Linked DNA regions of Homo sapiens. The protein of the gene in region 1 purifies or fractionates together with the protein of each later gene. This does not show direct contact. Each region holds a gene or a part of one and is shown in the gene's direction. Other genes may lie near its edges.

Region 1 (7,028 bases):
TGAGGAGCCAGAAAAGTTCTCCTTAAGAAGGAGCTATTCGAGCTAAACCTGGAAGGACTGGTAGAATGGAGCTGGGCAAAGCGAGGGGGTGACGCACCATCCACCAGCAGAGGAGCAGAGCAAGGGGGAGTGTGCGCCACCATCTGACTGTCGAAGCCATCAGGCTGGAGTGCAGAGATCCCAAGCAGGGCGTGCCTGCACAAACAGGGTGTACTTGAGCAAGTTATTGTTACTTCTAGGCTTGTTTTCTCATCTGTGCTATTGGAGTAACAGAAATATTGAGAGGATTAAGAGGGAATATATAAAGTATGTGACCTCAACTTCCTATGAGCCTAGGACATAGTAAATGCTCAAAAATATTAATTATTATTTTTGTTATCGGCACATAGGAAGCATTCAATAAATGTTAGCTCTCTTTCTCCTGATTCCTTTCTTGGTGGGGAATAGTATATAAGTTTGCCAAGTGACTTGCCATTTGTCTTCATTTGAGGATAACTACACCTTATCTTGTCAATTTGTACTTGTGGATTTTCCCCACTAGAACTTAAAACACTCTGAGAGCAGGAATTTTGTTTTTTCTGTTTTGCTCATAGCTGTATCCCCAGTGCTAGAATAGTGCCTAGCATATAGAAGGCATGCAGTAGGACATGAAGGACCTTCCTCTCCCCCAGTTTCATGGGGGGTGGGGGTGGAGGCAGCAACTAGAGCGAAGAGGCAACTGAAACAGGCACCTCATGACTTAAGGGAAAGTGTGGGATAAAGTATCTAGATATCTGCCTTCACTGTAACTGAGGGAACCTGATTCCAGAAAAGCCCCACTCAAGTTTCTAAAGTTGTTTTTTTGTGGTTGGAGGGCTTCGTGGGAAGTTTGGGAAAGGGGTGGGGGATAGTTTTCCTAGAAGGCCAGACTTTAGCTGTGACTGAAGTATAAATTTACACACACCCTTAGAAGCTCATGTGCCTGCCCCTCGGAGTTACGGGGTTCCTTGGGTGACAGCACTTCCTTCCAATCAGAACCTCGCCAGAAGTAAGCATAGAGGTGGGACAGGTTCTGTTTGGTGATCTGCGATTTAACAGATCAATTTGCAGCCTCCTCTGGCAGCTTGCTTTAAGTTTCCCTAGGCTGTGCTCCTGGTTTCATAAACATACAACCAGGCCCTGCCAGAGCCAGCACAGTATTCCCTGGCCCAGGGCCGCTGACTGTACTCACCACTGAATTTTTAAAAACAAAATAAAGCCTAGCCATTAACCCCACTACATTAATTTCTCTTATCGTGGTTGATGTCAAATGTGAAACCCCTCCCAACATCTGTCATGTCTAAATTCAGACCTGCGATCAGATAGCACAGCATATTCCTGTGCCTTTCATTGAAATCACCTTTTTTTTTCCTACGTTGCATAGCAATATAAATAAAACACTACACCCCCACCAAGCCGCATATGTTGGCTTAAAGGAAAACCTGGGCGCTGTTTATTCCTTGGTTTATTGTTGTATGGTCAGTGTTTTCCTATCATTGTGCTGCACTAGCTGCTCAGCGTTACTGACCCACAGGAAGCAGAGCTGTTCATTGTTGAAAAGCAGATTCCATATATGGCAAGTCTGAAGTTGCCCTCCTTTCCTTCTCACCATTATTAATACAGCTTTGGGTTTTCACTTGGGGATGCCTAACAGGTACATTTAAGAAAGACAGTGTCTTGCAGGCTTGGGAGTCAAAGAAGTTTGACTCACATGAATCTCATAGAGGTCACCTTCCACTCTTTCCCAAACTTATTTCAAACAGTAACTTCAGAGCAATCACCTGTCAGAGACATTGGTTTAGGAAAAAATACCTAAAGAAAGTATTCTTTGGAGACCAGCCCATAAGGCAGATAGGAATGTTCTCAGCCTCGCTGGAGGAGAATCTTCATTTCTGATTTTTGTCAAGGTGGAAAGAGAGTACCAGGGGCCAGTGTCCCCTAGTGTGGACCTAGAATTGCTAGGAGGAACAGATAGCCTACAAGAGGGGACAGTCTGAAGAAGCCACAGCTATGGTGCCAGGGTTCCGGTAGACCTCGGACAGACCTATGCAGCGTGGCAGTTCAAATCCAGGAATCCAAAACCTGGGCAGTGGATACTGACATCATACTGCCTGACTCTATTCCTGCCTCCACTCTTTACTACCTAGGGGACTTTGGGCAAGTTGTTTAACCTCTTTGAGCCTCCATTTTCTCATCTGTATAATGGACATAATAAACTACTAATATCTGTGAACTTTGTGCACATAAAATGAGTTAATATATGTAAGGTTATAAGTATGGTTCATGCATACAGTAAATAATAACATATCAGTAATAGTTGTTTTTAAATACTAGAAGTACAAATGGGAAAGTAGAATCTAGAATCCAAGAGGTTCATAAAGTCACAACAAAGCAGGCAGGTGTTTTACATCCAGCTAAGCAAGCAAGGTAGCAAGAGGCTTGGAGTTTATCAAGGGCATGGAGTCAAAAGGAGAGATCACTTCCTCCACCGTTCCCTGCCAAGTGCTGGGAATTCAAAGATGATTAAGACACAGCCCTTGATCTTGAGGCACTCATGCCTTTATTTAGCCTCCATTTTGCCTTTGATTAGAATTTATTCCCTGTTTAGTCTTTGCTCCTTGAGGGCAGGGACTGTGTCCTTTTGGCATCCCCTTTCTCCCAATCCCTCAGTACCTAATAGAGTTAAGCATGGCTCCAGCTAAGGTAGTTGTGTGCACTGACCCTGGAGCAGGATCTGTTTATTTCCTTTCCCACTTCTGTGCTACTAAGTGGAGGCCAAGGAAAAGCAATGGGAAAACCTTTGGTGATCAGTGCCTCTCAAACTTTAACGTGCGTACAGATCACATAGGGAGCTTATTCAGCTTTATTCGGATTCAGTGGGTCTGCATTTCTAACAAGCTCCCAGGTGATGCTCGTGTTGCTGGTCTGGGAACATGCTTTGAGAACCCCTGTTTTAGATGTGGCCTGAAGAGGTCAGAGATTCAGCAGTGGCACTTGTTTCTGACTGAAGCAGGGTGTGCCCTGCTTCTTGGCTTACTCACTTGGCTTGTTTTTGGCAGTTCTTTTAATTTCAGTTACCACTTTACCTTTATTAAGTCTCTTTTTTACGCTAATACTTGATGCTTTCTGGAATTACCGGGAGGCCACCTGTCCATTGTTCATTGCATTTCACCTTGTTGTTCTAGAACATCAGCCATGAAGTGTCTTTGGGTCTCCAACCATGTGTGACAAAAGAGAACGTAACCTCTATCCCCCAACCTTGACAGTTAATATCGCGAAGCTGCTCCCTTAAAACAAGTGATGCTATACTGAGCACTGAAACAAATCATGTCATGGTTGCTAAGGAATTAAAGAGAGAATGCTGCCAGCAAGATGGAAATACCAGATGGGCTGGGAGCACATCTTACAGATGAATTAACTCGGGTTACCTTGGCCTGCCTTTTTCATCCTCTTTGAATTTGATTGGGAACAAAAATAACAATGCTTCAGTTTACGAAGTGCTTTCATATGCGTTATCCCACCTGATCATGAATCACAACAATCTCACGAAATAGTGTAATTATTCCCATTTTACAGTTGTGAAAGCTGAAAGTCAGGCACAGTAGGTGGTATGTCCCAGGTCTTCTGACTTTAAACCCCATGCTTTTTTCATTGTTTTAATTTATTGGAACGTGTAGAATATAAGGTATAAGAAATGCTGCTAACTTGGAAAATCTGAAGCCTGTGATCAGGGAGATTATATTCAGTGTCAGATTTAGTCTTGATGCATTCCAGAAACAGGTACAAAGAGATGCCTAAAAATACTAAGGCATATGGGAGAAGAAGCAGGAAGGAGAGAGGTTGGGAACACTGCTGATCAGTTTCAGGCAGAGGAAAAGTAACATGGAAATTGAGAAAGGGTATATATCAAGAGACAGTTTAAAAAGTTAATTTCAGGAGCAAAAACTTGAAGAATAGTAAGCACTATATAAATGTACACTATGTGCCAGCTGCTTTCCTAAGCATTTATTAACTAATTTAATCCTCACAACAACCCTATGAAATAGTAGCAGTTATCATCCCCAGTTTACATATGAGAAAACAGAGGTCTGAAGCATTGAAGAGACTTGAGAGCTGGCCAGTGGCAGAGCTGTGTCTCTATGTGTGTCCCCAGAGTCTGTACTCATAACCACTCCAAGTCTACAGACTATCGGAGAGGAAGGTTGAAGCTCTGACAAACTTGTGAATTCTAGACCTGCACTGTCCAATGCGGCGACTATGCTACTGATCACATGTAGCTATTTAAATTAATTAAAACTAAATAAAATGTAACCTTCATTTTCTCAGTCCCACTAGCTACATTTCAGAGCTCCATAGCCATAGGTGCCTAGTGGCCACAACGCTGGACAGCAGAGATATAGGACATTTACATCATTGGAGAAAGGTCTTCTTGACAGCCCTAGCCTAAATATAGTTATTCTTTCACTCATAAATATATCTATTCATATTTTTCTCTTATGGGGTCTTAAAAACATTAAAGAGAGGAGACATAGTTTCCACAAAAGGCTACTGACTTTCTAGTATAGAAGATTTAGAAAACCGAAAGGAATTCCAGCTGTCATGGAAAGAGGGAGTGTGGATCTAAAATAAAAATTAGTAGAGGACGGCTGCAGCAAACCACATTATTGGAACCATGGGAGCGATGTTTCCTATCTTGAAGATTAAGCTTTTGGTTTGAAGGTAACATTAGCAAGTCTACCAACATAATAGCACAAAGTGTGAGGCACTTACTGTTCTCAGTGTGTAACATGAACTCATTTAGTCTCTTTAGGAGGCACTATTATTACCTTCACTTTGCAGATGAGGAAGCTGGGGTTAGAGAGGTTAAGTGGCTTGCCCAAGATTATAGGACCAGTAAGTGCCAGAGTCTGATTCAAACCCAAATGCGTAGAACCCCCATTTTTATCCACTACAACTCCTTTACACCTACGTACCGTATGCACGCATGTGTTTATTACCCTAAGGGCATCATTATATATTCTGAACACCCAGAAGAGGTGAATTTCTAGAAGAACAGTTGGCAGATATTCCAGGATGTGTACCAAGCTCTGTCCTCCACATCGTAATGGTGATTGGGAAAGAGTCAGCTTATTAACAGGGGTGGCAGAGCAAGGCTGAGCAGGGCCAGGGGTGCATTGGAAGTTGCTGTCACTCATCCAGGAAGCCGACTTTGTCTCCCTGCTCCCGCCAGAGTCTATCTAGCCTTCTGTGAATGGACCAGTGCTGCACCTTCCTGACCTCAAACAGGTCCTGGTAAAATGGCTTTTAAGAAAAATCTCTATAGAGCACCAAGCTAGACTTTCACAATTTCTGCTAGATTCCACCCATGCTAACTTCTTAGTAAACAAATTGTTTTGGCTTTTCTAATCTAGCCTTAGTTCCATTTGAAACATTTTTTTAACCACTGTCATTCTGTAACAACTAAAACTGGATGAAGATCATTATTTATTGATCAATAATTAAGAATTGTTTATCTGCTCCAAAGTAGTTCTCCCAACCACTATAAATAAATATTGTTTAATGTGTTGTCTTTGCTTATGTAAAGCTCTATATAGATGAGATGTCACAGTAGTCATTGTGGCCTCCAAGATAAGTGATTATATATGCAGAGGGCAGGCCTAGGATGAGAGCCAGCTGGATGTTCCAAGGAGGAGGTCCGCTGAACCTAGAAAAGACCATTTTTTTCCTCTCCGGGCTTATCCCCTTGATGAGGTAAGTAAGGCAGACATTGAGTTCAGTTCACTTCTGTGACTTGGTAGACCAGATTTTAGTTCTGTACATATTTGATCTTCATTTGAGAAAGCCATCTGCTCCCTGGAATCCTTAGCCAGTAGTCTATGACATTTCATTTTGCTGTATAGTATAAAGAAGACTACATAGGCTGGGCATGGTGGCTCACACCTGTAATCCCAGCACTTTGGGAGGCTGAGGCAAGAGGATCACTTGTGCCCGGGAGTTCAAGACCAGTCTGGACAACAAAGTAAGGCCCCATCTCTACCAAAAAATAGAAAAAAATAGCTGGATGTGGTTGCACATGCTTGTAGTGGGAGGAGGAGGTGGGAGGATGGATTGAGCCTGGGAGGTCAAGACTGCAGTGAGCTGTGATCAGGCCACTGCACTCCAGCCTGGGCAACAGAGTAAGACCCTATCTCAAAAAAATAAAAAGCAAGAAAACTACACAGCCATCGTCTTTCTCCTAATTCTTGATGTTCCCTAATCTCCTTCTCCTTCTCCCTGTATTGTTAAGAGAAAAGACATTATGTATAATCACCAAATAAACAACACATTTTCCACTGTCTATATGTAAATTATCTGCTCTATCATTTGCAGCAAGCTTTTCATCCCAAGTTAGTTTCCTTCCCCTGAGCTTATATTTCTCCAGCACTTCTAAACTGCCCCCAGCAATGTTGGTTGACCCATGCAAGTTAACTTTATAACAATTTAAACAAACTGAAGGTGCATCTGGCACAAATGTATAGCCCAGTGTTCTTTGCAGAGATGAATGGAACACTCCTGATTTTATTGTGGCCTGAATTGCACCACCCTTCCATCACTGCAGAGAATTAAGCATTGGTCAATTATAAAATATACTCTTACCTGAAGGAAGTTTTTCTTACTGTGAGCTTTTTCTTAGGAAATGGCATGAGGAAAATAATGGGGAGATCAGAAACACTGGTACCTAAAGGAGCTGCCATGCATTTCCAGACTAACACAGCCTTCTCATCGCCACAGGCTGCCACAGTCCTGCCTCTCAGTTCCCACTCACCTGGTCCTGATGAAGGCCAAGGTAGTGAGGTCCTTCGGAGACCATTTGACATAGATGTCATATGGCATTCAATTCTTGTATTTTTTCTGATAAAACCCTTGATTTTGAAGAAATGCCATCTGAATCCTTGACTTGCTTTTACTGCATAACAGAATAAAAATCTTGGGAGCTGGTTTTCCTCTTTGAGAAAATTCAGATCATCTTC
Region 2 (7,028 bases), on another chromosome or scaffold:
AGTTTTTAACTTGCATAGTTTATTCTTGTCAAGTGTTGATAATGTCTATATTTTGCTTATAGTCAAAGTTAACTCCTTATTTTTTAATATAAAGAATGCTTTTGGAAAGAAAAACACTTGGGGATTTTTCGTTTTTGTTGTTGTAGGATACTTTCATCTTACTGCATTATGGTTATTTTGTGGCATTCTGTTGTATTTGTTGGGTTATATAATTAATTTATGGCACCCAACTACAGTTTAAATTATTACTTAAACTTTACAGCTGAAACTACTATTTAGGTTCTTTTAAAATCAGACTGCTCTTTATCTTGTCTTCCTATCGTTACACACTTGTGGGCAAAAATTAATGTCTTATCAGTCTGTTTCTTGATGATGTTTTTAATAACACAGTGTTAATATAAACATTTTATTTTGTCTATAAATATGCTTAATAACCAGGTAAAACTGAAATAGAGGGCCAACTTGAATCTTAATAATAATATCAGATATAACACAGATAGATGACATTTAGCAGTAATTCTGAGACCAGCCTTTTACAAATAACAAAAACAGAATTAATGACTTAAACTGATTTGACTTTATCCATGTTCTCAACCCCCAACCCCTGCTTTTGTGATACTTGTACTGAGGACTAGTGAGAGGGCAGGTAGACACAAAAATTGGAGGACTTTGAGAATCTTCCTTTCAGTAGTTGAGACTGACAATATTTAATGTTTTACTGTTCCCTTCCTGTCATTACAGTCTTTGAATCATTGTAACATTACTATAAGATCATTATTAGATTAAATGTTTTTTGATGGATTTCCAACACTTTGCTTTATTGGTAAATTTAAAATCTATGAAATATTGATAATATTTAGTCAATACTTAGAGTGAAGTAGTTCTAAATCACCATTTATCTTCCTTGATCCTGTAATTATTTTTCAAAATAATTAACTTTTTTTGGGATACATTTATATTTTCTTAATTCCAGCCTTATTTTAAACAAATCATAGATTAGATTTTTTTTTCCCTAAATAGCCTTTATGTATTCTGTATTCATACTGGAAAGTTATAATAATGTAATACCTCACGTGAATTGGTTAACAGAACTATAGAATTCTGTCATTTAGCTACATATTTAGATTCATTTGTCTTTATCCATGGTTATTAGCTAGCCTACTTGTTTAATAAGGGCTGATTTTTCTTTTCTTTTTTTTTTTGAGGCGAGTCTTACTCTGTCGCTAGAGTGCAGTGGCGCGATCTCGGCTCACTGCATCCTCTGCCTCCCCGGTTCAAGCAATTTTCCTACCTCAGCCTCCTGAGTAGCTGGGATTACAGGTGCATGTCACCACACCCAGCTAATTTTTGTGTTTTTAGTAGAGACGGGGTTTCACCATGTTGGTCAGGGTGGTCTCGATCTCCTGACCTCAGATGAGCCACCTGCCTCGGCCTCCCAAGGTGCTGGGATTACAGGTGTGAGCCACTGTGCTCAGCCTGATTTTTTTTTAAGTTTGAAAAATGTCACTTAAGTTTTTTTTTTTTTTTCGAGACAGTCTTGATCTGTCACCCAGGCTCAAGTGCAGTGGCGTGATCTCAGTTCACTGCAATCTCTGCCTCCCAGGTTCCAGCGATTCTCCTGCCTCAGCCTCCCAAGTAGCTGGGACTACAGGTGCAAGCCACCACCCTGGCTAATTTTTGTATTTTTAGTAGAGACGGGGTTTCACCATGTTGGTCAAGCTGGTCTCGAACTCCTGACCTTGTGATCCTCCTGTCTTGGCCTCCCAAAGTGCTGGGATTACAGGCATGAGCCACCACACCTGGCCTTGTCACAAGATTCTTTAGGAAATATATTGGATTAAAACTTTAAAAAGTATTATTGTATAATTCACAAAATGTTCATAGTTGTTTTAAACTTCAGAACCTAATACAATCTGTCAATTTCTTGCTTTGCCAAAGTCACAAATTGACTTTTTAGTAAATGATAAGCCATCTGTGAACTCTGGAAAATATACTTGGTAGTAGATTCATTAAATTATAAGGAAATTTTGTTTTTATATTTGTGATTAAATTTTTCTTTCTAGGGGTTTAGTGGTTACTCTCCTGTTTGGAAAAACAAACTCAGAGAAGTACCTAGAACAGTGTGAACACTCATTTCTTCCTCCAACATCACCTGGGGTTCCTAAGGTAAATCGTTTGAGGGAATATAAAACCTCAAAGTCCAGTTCTTTGCAATGATAATAGAGTAATCATCTGTATATATAGCGTGACAAATTTTCGTATAGTTTACTAATGCTCACTGGGAATTTATGTGAGATTGTCTAATTATACTTAGAAAATATATTTTAAAAGGCCATCTTAAAAACTTTCTTAGTGTTAGATTTAAAAAGTGGGAATACAAACTTGAGAAAACGATAGAAATTGGTTAGTTTATTTTGGGTATTTTTCCTGCTGTCTTATCATAGTATTTCAAAGCATCATGCATATGATTTTTAACAATGTCAATGAGTATTCTGGTTTGAATGAAATAAATTGCAGAGGAATCAGAGGAAAAAATGGATACTTTTCATTACTTTGAAAAATACAGCTTGTAATTAGATTATGCAGTATCTATAATTTTAATAATTCAGGCCTAATTTTTATCATCTTGAATGGTGCTATTATTTTTTCAGTATCATACTCTATAAATAAAATTGGAATTGTGTAAGTTTCAGATTGTAGTGCCTTCAATTCTTGTGCAGTTGGGTTGGTTTCATTTTGTATGAAGAGAGGCAGATGGCCTGGAGTTGATGCTAATAACAACTTTCTTTACAGTTATTAATTTATCTGTTACATGCTAAGGTGCAGGAGATGTAGAAGTAAATAATGTCCAATATTATTTTACATTAATAAAAGAATTTCACTCTATTCCACTGACTTTTATATTGATAAACAAATTTTTTAATACTTAAACTTTTTTATAATCTGAAACCTTTCTCTCCTTTAGGACTCATATTAATATGTATTTTTTTTTTTTTACTTATAAGTCTTAGGAAATTAACCTTTCCTTTTTTGAACCATTTCTTAGCTATTTATAGTGTACTTCATTTGAGTGGCATATACAGAGAATAGGAAATATTTTAAGAATTAAGATCCTTAACAGTAATAAATTATATTCAAGAATGGTTAAGTCTTTATAATCCATTTTTAATAGATAGTATAAAACAATGGGTTTTATTTGCTATTTCTAAAATATGATTTCTAAGTATGTCTTATGAAAAAATATCCGTGGTTTCATATTATAACTTTGAAGCATGTATTTTTAATATAGATATCTATGTCTATATCTGTATCTATGTTTATATATATTTATGGTTTGTTTTTTTAAGAATCTCCCACTACCTTTTCCCCAATTTTCAGGCCACTGATCTTTCTGAACACAAAAAAGTAGAGAAGTACATTTTCTTAAGTTGCCAAAACTATCCCTACATAAAATCCGTTTAAAAATTAATTATTTTGCAGCTGGTATACTGTTTTGGGCTGGGAAAGGGGAGGGGCAAGAGGGAGAGTGTCCAGTAAAGACAGTTTGACTCACATGAAACACTAATTTTATAGTTGTAGAGTTTCATTGAAATATGGCAGCAGCATACCTGTACATTTGCAGTTTTCCCACATTCTAAATAATTTTTGCTGATTAAATTTTTGAGGATAATCATTTTTTTGGGAGTGTCTAATTTTGTTAACTTGAGAAATAGTGTTTGGCTTATAGAGTAGCACCTCAAATAAGGTTATTTATTTACTTGAGGATAATGAAGGGATGTTACATTGAGTATTCAACTGGAATTAAACTGGAGAGATTTTACATCAGAAAACTACTCAGTAAGATATTTTGATTTCCTTTAAGTGCTTAGAAGAAATGAAACGGGAAGCCAGGACTATTAAGATTGATAGAAGATTGACGGGTGCCAATATAATTGATGAACCTCTCCAGCAAGTGAGTTTCAGCGTGTGGTATTTGAATTCTATATATTGTGTTCTAGGTATATTTCTTTTGAAGATACCAGGAAATACTTTTTGCTCTTTAAATAATATCCTGGAATTTCTTAATGTTATCCTTGAATTTTATACTTGAAGATGCTTCCTTATTTATTAACTCACTTCTAATGAGGTGGTTTACTTTATGTAAAAGCCTTTCGATTGAATTTGGATTTAGAAAAAAAGTTGTTATTGACATTTGATAGTGTTTCTTAAAATTTTACAGTTAAAGTGTTACTCTTTCGTTGATGAACAAGCTTAGTGGTGTGGTAAATCAGACTTTTTTTCCTACTTGTTACCTTTTAAAAAATGGAAAAGAAATATCCGATGCAAAAACATTAAAAAATTAGAGATAGGTAAAAAAACTATGCCCCCTGAAATATTTTTCATTGATGTTTGATTATATGATTATAAAAATGTGTACTTTAGAATTTTAACATTTATTATTATTACTAATATTTAGTTTATCTGATTTGTAAAAATTATACATTGAGTTGTATTATGTACTATTTATTGTCTGAATACTGTTGGCAGTATCAAAGGTATTAGTAGAAATAAGTGAACTCCTGTATCATTTTTATAATTAGACTGCAATGGATCTGATGATATAATCTTTAAAAAAACTTTTTTTGTGGAATTATAGTCTCTATTATTTTACATCTCATTCCATTAAACTGATTGATATTATTTATTAGATTATAGCATGGAAAGTTTCTTTTTTTTCTGCAAACCCTGTCTTTACCTGGATTTATGTGGGACTTGGCCATAGATAGTGTTTTATTTTATTTTTTTTTTTAAATCTAGGCAGTAGGTAAGTTGGGATACCAGAATAATTTAAAAATGTTTGAAATGGTTTTTAGTATGTTGATGTTTTTGTAATGAGGGCAGGTATTTACCACCATAAATTAATACGTAGAGAGTAAATATAAATTGGTAGATACAGCATACTTTTTTAGTTTACCACTGTAACTTTTTAAATCCTAAAATGTTGTAATTTTTTTTCCAATATTTTTGTTATAGGTTATCCAGTTTTCCTTGAGGGATTATGTCCAGTATTGGTATTATACACTAAGCGATGATGAATCTTTTCTTCTTGAAATTAGGCAGACTCTTCAAAACGCACTCATTCAGTTTGCTACTAGGTAAGGACACGACATTGTATTTATGCAGAAAAATTTAGATGTATGGTTTGTACCAGTAAGGAAAACAACTTTTAAGGGGAGGAATTGTTTATTAAAAGGTAAGTAGAACAGCAGATTATTACTGTGGGATAACTCCAAGATTTTACAACTAGAGCTCTTAAAACCTTTAAATTACCCCAGATTTTAGGTTTTTACAGAATGTTATTTTGATTAAGCCCTGCTTTCTAAGTCTGTTTGGTAGTTTTTTCTTTAGGGTCCAAATCAGGTGACTTTTCAAATCTGTTACCCCACTTATTGCTACTTCCCCCCTCCCCCTTCCCTAGACCCTCTGTTTTATGTGAGTGCTATGAAAATAGATTAGTTTCAGTGTAACTGCTCTTCTCCACATAGTTTTGCTGTAACCCTTCTCCTAATTATGACACATATCTATTGGAAGTCCTCTTGGACGAGAAGGGACCAAAGGAACATAAGTCAGTGGAAAATATTCAAGTTTATATTTTTCAGAAAAGAAGTATATTTTGGTGAGTTTGTTTTAACAAACTTTTTTTGTCAGATATACTAAAATTCTTACTTTACAAACCAGCTATATACTGCTTCCCATATGATGAAAGTGTTTTGACTTCTATTCTTGTACTTAAACTGCTTGATTTTTTTTGATGGGAGGCTATTTCACACCTGTTTAAATTATGTTTACTTTCATTTTTATTTTTGAAGGCTTTTTTTCCCCTCCATCCTTGATGTCTAACTTTTTGAAAGCCTTTTAATGGGCAACGTTATGTGAAAGGGAATACTTGTGTTCTAGAAATTATTTATTTTTGAAAGAAAGATTTTATGTTTGGATGAGTTTGTAGATTTTTTTTTTTTATTCCATTAAAATATGTTGCTACCATCACACGCAAAGATTGCCCTGCTAGGTATTTCCAGCCATGCTGCCCTCTCAGGCCCTTTCCTCTATCTCCATTGATTATAAAGCTTTAGATTTGGAGTTGGCTAGAGGAAGGGCATTGGATGTGTTTCCCAACCTCATTGGGGAGCCTGGCACAAGTTTTATGATTTGAACAATAATTGTTACAGAGATAGATTTGTACTCCTCATCCCTCGTGATTAGGAGCAAGAATTTACAAAGTAGCCAGCCAGAATTACAGATGCAGACTCACTGTGGAACACAGAACATATAATTGGTATAATCAAAGAAAGTCAGAATTTGAATTTAATCTCTTTTATTTCATATGCACCATTATTGAGTGTTAGGTATTCTTTCAGATAACTCTTCTAAATATTTTTTATTGCTTTCTATAGCAACACTATCCTGATGACTTTTTTTTTCTTTGAAAGGGTGAGAATAGGAAGAATTCATTATTCTTGTGCCTGACTATTGAAAAATATATAAAAATGTGTAACACATTTTAGACCTGGGAAGAGATTTGAACTAGTAATCTGAAAACTTGAGTTTGCATTCTAGCTCCACCTCTAGCTATGGGACTGTGAGCAAGTGTCTTTAAACTCTGAACCTTGGTTTTTCTCATATGTAAAATAAGTGTAATAATAACTGCCCTGTTCTGTGTTCCTCTCAGGATAATTGTCAGGATCAAAATTCATCTTATTCAACTAATATTTTGGGCATACTTTGTACCAACCAGATGCTGGGGATACAGCAGTGAATAAAACAAAGTCCCTGCTCAGTGGAGTGAAATGAAATACCTGTGACAGTGTTTTGAAAATTGTGAAGGAATTTAGAAATTTAAGTTTTTATGCCATCCAACACCCATAATTTTACTGATGAGGAAGCTAAGGTCCAGAAAGGTAAAGTGGTTAGTCTAATGTTATCTAGTGAGTTAGAATCAAATTGTTCTTAAGTTTGGTATTTTTTCTCCTACCCAATTAAATATTTTA

What was found. Proteins that work in one complex are often made in the same cells at the same time.
Region 2: the proteins of TSPAN2 (region 1) and SNX13 purify together in Homo sapiens (co-immunoprecipitation; 3 studies listed by BioGRID and IntAct, with this or other methods). This does not show direct contact.

Annotation. Positions count from the first base shown.
Region 1 is NC_000001.11:115,079,483-115,086,510, reverse strand, and holds part of TSPAN2 (tetraspanin-2), read left to right. Parts: intron 1-7,028. UniProt on the Homo sapiens protein: May play a role in signalling in oligodendrocytes in the early stages of their terminal differentiation into myelin-forming glia and may also function in stabilizing the mature sheath.
Region 2 is NC_000007.14:17,888,470-17,895,497, reverse strand, and holds part of SNX13 (sorting nexin-13), read left to right. Parts: intron 1-2,063; coding exon 2,064-2,166; intron 2,167-3,862; coding exon 3,863-3,952; intron 3,953-5,013; coding exon 5,014-5,135; intron 5,136-6,709; exon of another isoform or gene 6,710-6,938; intron 6,939-7,028. UniProt on the Homo sapiens protein: May be involved in several stages of intracellular trafficking. May play a role in endosome homeostasis. Acts as a GAP for Galphas.